2 separate regions of the Homo sapiens genome follow, and region 2 is linked to region 1. Evidence: fine-mapped expression QTL. A gene starts in region 1. The other region holds a variant in brackets. All regions are shown on one strand. Distances are from middle to middle.

Region 1 (2,837 bases):
AGAGCTGGCGGCGTGCGGGAGCGTCTCTCTCGCCGTCGACCAATCGGAGGGGCCGGGCCCACCCACCCCCGCCCCGCCCGCCGGCTGCCGCCCCCTCGGGCGCTCGCCTCCCCCTCTCCGCGGGCCTCGGACCCCGAGGCCGCGCGGAGCCGCGTAGGGATACGCCGGCGGGAGCACGCGGTGCCGCAGCCCTTCCCTGCGCCCCCGCCACCCCCTCCACCCCGCCGGCTCCGCTCCACCGAAATTCCCCTCCTAGGGCCAATAGCTCACATTTCCGGCTTCCTCCTCATTGTACTGGGTCATTTTCGTTTAAGCGTCAATATTTGTCCTTAGTGATTAAAGTTTGTATCCAATTTTATTTTTGAAAGCGGGGGTGGTGGTGGTAGTGGGAAGAGTGGGAGTGCAGGGAGAGGATGCGAGAGGGCAGGAAATGGAGGAGGTAGAGGCGAGGCACTACTTTTCCGAGTCGGCCTTGCAGGCCAGTGTCTGGCATTTCTGAGCCAGCAGGAAAATTGTGCCCTTTGTAGGTAATAGTCTAGCGCAGCTTTGGATAAGGGGGGAGATAAGGCCCACCGCTGGCGTGTGTGCGGGGGTGTCCTTTACTTCGGGGGAGGAGGGTGTGGGAGAGCTTTGGGAGCGATGAGATGAGGAGGAGGAAGTGGGCAGAGGAGCGCGGGGCCAAACAGGGGTTACTTACTCGATTCCTGAGGCCTGGGCGGCGGCGAGCTCCGGGCTCCGGCACCGCGGGGAAACCGGGACTGGGGCTCCGGGTGCTGCTGCGGCGGCCGGGGCCGCTCAGTAGTGGGCGCCTCTGATGGCCTTCCGAAATGAGAGGTGCCCAGAGAGAAAACAGTACCAAACAATCTCGAAATAAATCAGGTAACACATGCTATATACGTGTGTCTCTTCCTTTTCCTTCTCTCCTGCTCCAGAGCGTCGCTCACGCGCGGGGTGACTCGATGTCGTTTTCTCCTCGCCGCTCCAGCCTCAGCTTCTAATCCGAATTGGAAGCGGGTAGCTGCGAGCGATCACCCTGGAAATATTTTCGTTTTGCTTGTTGACATTGGAGGGAAAATAAGGGTGGGCGTCTATTTCTTTCCGGTTTTTTTTTTAAGCCTTCCTATTTTCACTCCTTTTTTTTCCTTTCCGTTTCTCAAATGCTTTTATTTTGTGCGGGCCTCATTCCTGAAATAACAGTATACTGAAGCCAGCTCTTGCCAACCCTGAGTGCTGCTGGAAAGCACCGGGGAGCCTTGGGAACGTGGATCTCACAGTCCCAGCTTCTTGGGCTTTGGAACTGGGAAGGTTCGGTTGGAGGTTGAAGTGAATGGGGAAATTGCGAATCGGGGGCTTTAAAAGGATCCCGTGGCCAGGGGCAGGGCTAAGGCCCAGCATTTCCCAGGGATTGGAATTTAGTGGGGAGCACATTGATCAAAGGCTGTTTCATCCCACATGGGCACGAAACATACCACATTTTACGGAGGATGTAGCCCCAGAGAAGAGGGAGGTGGAGAAGCATAAATGAAAGGCACCTTTTCCTTCCTCTAGAAGGTAAATAATTATAAAATGTAAGCATTTCTTCACTTGGATAAACTTTCATTAAGATATCTGGCAGATTTGGTATTTAAGAAAACGAAGGAAGGAAAATTGGTGCTTATGCTTGATCCTAAAGTTAAATTGTAACATAAAGAATGCGGTTGATGAATACTCAGGATAATAGGGGGTTATTCCATCCTCCCCACCCCCAGTCTTAAGAAAGAGAAAGAGAGAAAAGGTTGGGGGGGGGGGAGGAAACTGGAGAGAATAATAGATAATTACAAATAGCTAGTGAATTTTAAATATGCATCTATTAGGAATGCCACAAAGGAGCTTTGAATATTGGACTAACCTCAAATGTCCTTCCACTGTATGTATGTATCTTTACCTATGTCTACATATCTTCTCACTTTAAAACAAACTGTATTTACATGTGGAAAAATTCAAGGGTTCCAACAATCAGTGTTGATAGTGACATGGTCCCAAACATTTATTTCCAAGCTCTGGATTTCTCGCAGGGCCGGGTGAGCTAATGGGCTTTGCCTACCGGCTGGAGAGATTTGTGGGCCTTCCCCTTCCTACTCACTTTTCCTCCTCCCACTCTTCTCCCCTCTTCAGGCCCGTTCTTCCTACTTTTCCTCAACTCTCCTTCCTCCCTCCTCCCTCCTTCTCCCTTAGCTCCCCCCGCCCCTTCCCCCCACCCTCCATTCCTCTGTCTCTCCATTCCTCCACCTACTCCTCCCAATTTCTCCTCTTACAGCCCCCCTTCTCACCACCACTTATAATGGCACACAGGGCTCCCTCTGAGGTGGACGGCCCGGTACGTTTTCGTAGTCGGTCTAGCGTGAAATGATTCGGTGTAACCGGATTCTTGGGAAAGGACAGGTTACGTAAACATTTACTGATGTGGAGTAACTATACTATTTGTACTCTGATATGCAGGAAGGAAAGTGTTGATTAACACAGAAGAAAAAAAAAACGAAATTAGCTGATTGCATGCTCATAAGTGCAAGCTGTCATTGAACTGCTTTTAAAATAGACACAGCTGGGTGTTTGTGTTGAAAAATTTCTTGTGTTTTTGCTAATACTGAAATAAGCATGATTTTGTATACCAAACATTTTCAGATCATTAAAATTTGTAATCTGTGCTGGTTTTAAACACAAAGAAAAGAAACAGAATCATTTCGATGTAAAATTTGCTGATATTATATTAACTCAATCAGGTCTGTACAAATTGTGCATTGTGCCTCCTAAAATCTGTTTGATCAATTTAATACACAAAGTGCCAAACGTGGGTATTG
Region 2 (2,990 bases), 36 kb after region 1:
CCTAGAATAAAGTAACAAAAACTATTTTTAAACTACCAGCATTTTAACAATTTATTTTCTGAATTCAGTCTATCAAGCAATTAGCTTAGATGGCTATAAAACTGTGTGAGCTTGTGAACCTATAAGTTTAGAGACACTTATGATTCACGATTAGTCTTGAAAATTTTTTATATAAAAATAGTCCCAGTAAATCACTAAGTCAAAATGGACGAACTGGTTCGATGTGTGTGTATGTGTATGTCTAGGTACACAGCTGTGTGTGTGTCTAGGTGTGTAGCTGTGTGTGTGTCCACACACATTTTGAAAATCAACAGGTTAGCAGAAACAGGATGACGAAGGAAGAATGAGAAAAAGAGATAGTTATAAAGAGTCACTGATAATAAGCAAAACATTCTTAGGATATGTGGGTGTATGTAATCAGTGGCCTTTTTGTACAAATACATCTTTTTTGACATATTAGCTTCCATCGACATCAACCGAAGCTGATTTCAGAATGTCAAGGAGAACTAGTGAGAAGTAAAAGTGACTGTAAAAGTAGTGGAAGTAGAAGCAGTGAAGATGTAGAGAAGTTTGTGAAAGAAGTAAAATAGACGTAGATGGTCATCACATTTAAATAAAGGTTAGTCATGCACTTTGAACAGACACTGGTTAAAGATATTTAGGAAAATAGAATGGATTTTAAATTTTAATTGGGGAAGCTGATTGTAAAGAAGAAGGAGTAAAAGCAAATACCAGAATAAAAACACTAGAGAGGGAAACTATTTCGTTATTAGTTTCAGCTATCTCCGAATGTGTGTTTAGGTTTCAACTTCAGCAGGAGACATCAAATTTATTCAGAAGAAGAGCTAAATTGATGATGGCATATCAATTCAAAAGCTATGCTTTTTGAAGCTTTTTGGGAAAGACATTCTCCTGTGTGCTGTCTTTTCACTCCCACTGGGCCACATAAGAATGGGCATGGAACCCTTCCTTACCAGTAGGTAAGGGGGCCCACACAGGAAGTACTGGGCTTATGGCCTTATGTGGGAATATCTTTTGCTGTTTCAGAATCAACGTGTAGTTCTTTGTTCTGCTTAAGTGGGTGTTTCAATAGTCCTCAGACATGTCCTCTCCCCACAATTTTTTTTCAGATACCATAGAGGAGAGGTCGAGGTCCTTCCACTGAAGCACCAAGTGGGGTATATAAAGCCACACTGCCCATGAGGGCTGTGGTGTGAGTCTGCTAGCCGTGAGAGACAGATGCATTACAAAGGGATGGATTTAGTGCACTCTTTCCTCTCTTACTGTGAGTAGATGCTGCACTTCTTGAACCTGGTGGGAGTGTGTGTTGTCTGTTCTCAGAGACCTTGAATCATACACAGTTTTTTTTTCACCCCCGGGTGACATTTACCTCCTTTTAACATTGGCTACACTCGTGTAATATTCTGTCCTGCAGCACAGCCTGAACAGCCAGTGAACAATGAAACAAAACTTCTTCCCAAGCCTCAATGAGGATTGTGCCATAGTTTGAAGGTAGGAGAATTTCAAGCCATTAATCGTCTATGAATACTGAATACCAGTGAGAATGGCTCCTTCAGGTCTATCAGCTTATTGCTGCTTCTGTGTTATTCTTAGGCCAAAGAACAATGGTCAATCCAGCAATCAACTCATTTTGGCTGATTTGTGCCTTTAGTCCAGGCTTCTCAGTTG[T/G]ACCACACAGCCGTTCTTCTCTTCAATTTCAGGGTCATTCCTTCAGGAATTCTGTCAGGAATAAGCAGCAAGTTTCCTACTGCTCTGGGTCCTCCTTAGACCCTTCTTATTTCATGTTCAGAGGAATGAACTCCACATCCTGTCCTAAACTCCACCTTCCTTCTATTATTTTTTCATATTTGACATTGATACTCATTGAAACTAGAATCTGAATTATTACCACCAAAGATATTACCTTTTTTTTTGCACCGGAGAGCTTAATCTTTAAAATGTTCTGTGAGAGATGGGAATGGTGTACTATCTTTCTAGTGTGGCAAAAGAAGAGAGAGTAACAAAATAATTGTGTTCATATTAAGATTATTTGAATATAAATATTTTGCCAAATTTGTATTTAGGTGTCCATGTTATTTTTAATAATTGGATTGATATAAGTAGATCTTAAGAAATATCAAAAAAAACCGTTTTGTCAAATTGGAGTCAAGGAGGCATGGAAATTCTCTTCATTTGCAGTACTCCTAAATTCCTGCTTATTCTGTGGTTGAATTTATATCAACAAAGAGAATTGGAGATTAAGGCAATTAATCAGAAATTTTAATTAAAAAAGGAATGGAAAAAATAAGTAAAATTTCCTATAGAATTCTAGGGTTTGACATCTACACAGATATATTCATTAGGTAGAATAATAAGTCTTTTCTTTGCTCTTATGAAAATATTGTTCTCTAATTGTCAATGAGCATAAAGTAAAATGAAGATAGATTATACAAATATCCTTATTGATTAAAAGTTTAAAATTGCCAGTGCCCAAGAAATATGCCTGAATTCAAGGATATCTTATTGCAAAGAATATCTTACTGCAGTTTGTTTTTTTTCCTTACTGTAAATAAAGGGTCAACCAACAGCTAATAACTCACAACTGCATCTTTTCTTGTTAGAACATGTCGCCCAGCACTTTTTGATTAGATGTTCTCAGATAATAGCTGGGGCAGATTGACCAAAGGAGAGCAATTTTTTTTTTAATCAGGATAACATAATGATTCCATCACAAACTTTAGAAAGGGCTATGGATATCACCAATTTTCTTTTTTTGTCTATTATTAGTGCTGTATCTTTAGTGGAATTGAAGACATGACCTTCTGCAGGTTTCAATACAACTTTATAAAAGGCTGTAACAATGCCTTTAAAATCAAATCTATTAACTGTTCTACAGAGAAGCCAGTTTTCTAGTAACTTGGCCATAACTTAAAGACAGGGACCCTGAAAACACCAAGCATCTGCCTGCAATCTGAATTATCTCCCTGACT

Direction of the effects. Alleles are on the strand shown, and positions count from the first base shown. SD is a standard deviation of normalised expression in the study named.
For the expression in cerebral cortex of the gene that starts at base 1,392 in region 1, T is the low allele of the variant in region 2 and G is the other (moderate effect, 0.43 SD a copy in GTEx).

What was found. PIP is the estimated chance that this variant, and not a neighbour inherited with it, causes the effect.
Region 2: its variant is fine-mapped to the expression of FOXG1-AS1 in cerebral cortex (GTEx, PIP 0.98).

Annotation. Positions count from the first base shown.
Region 1 is chr14:28,763,874-28,766,710 of GRCh38, reverse strand. FOXG1-AS1 (FOXG1 antisense RNA 1) reads left to right here and starts at 1,392. Exons shown (of 7, transcript NR_125758.1): 1 at 1,392-1,551. RefSeq lists an enhancer at 269-793.
Region 2 is chr14:28,727,697-28,730,686 of GRCh38, reverse strand. It overlaps FOXG1-AS1 (FOXG1 antisense RNA 1), which reads left to right. Exons shown (of 7, transcript NR_125758.1): 5 at 1,131-1,285; 6 at 1,436-1,512. Among named protein-coding and RNA genes, the nearest start is that of FOXG1-AS1, 36 kb to the left of the region's middle. The variant T/G (reference allele first, on the strand shown) is at 1,690.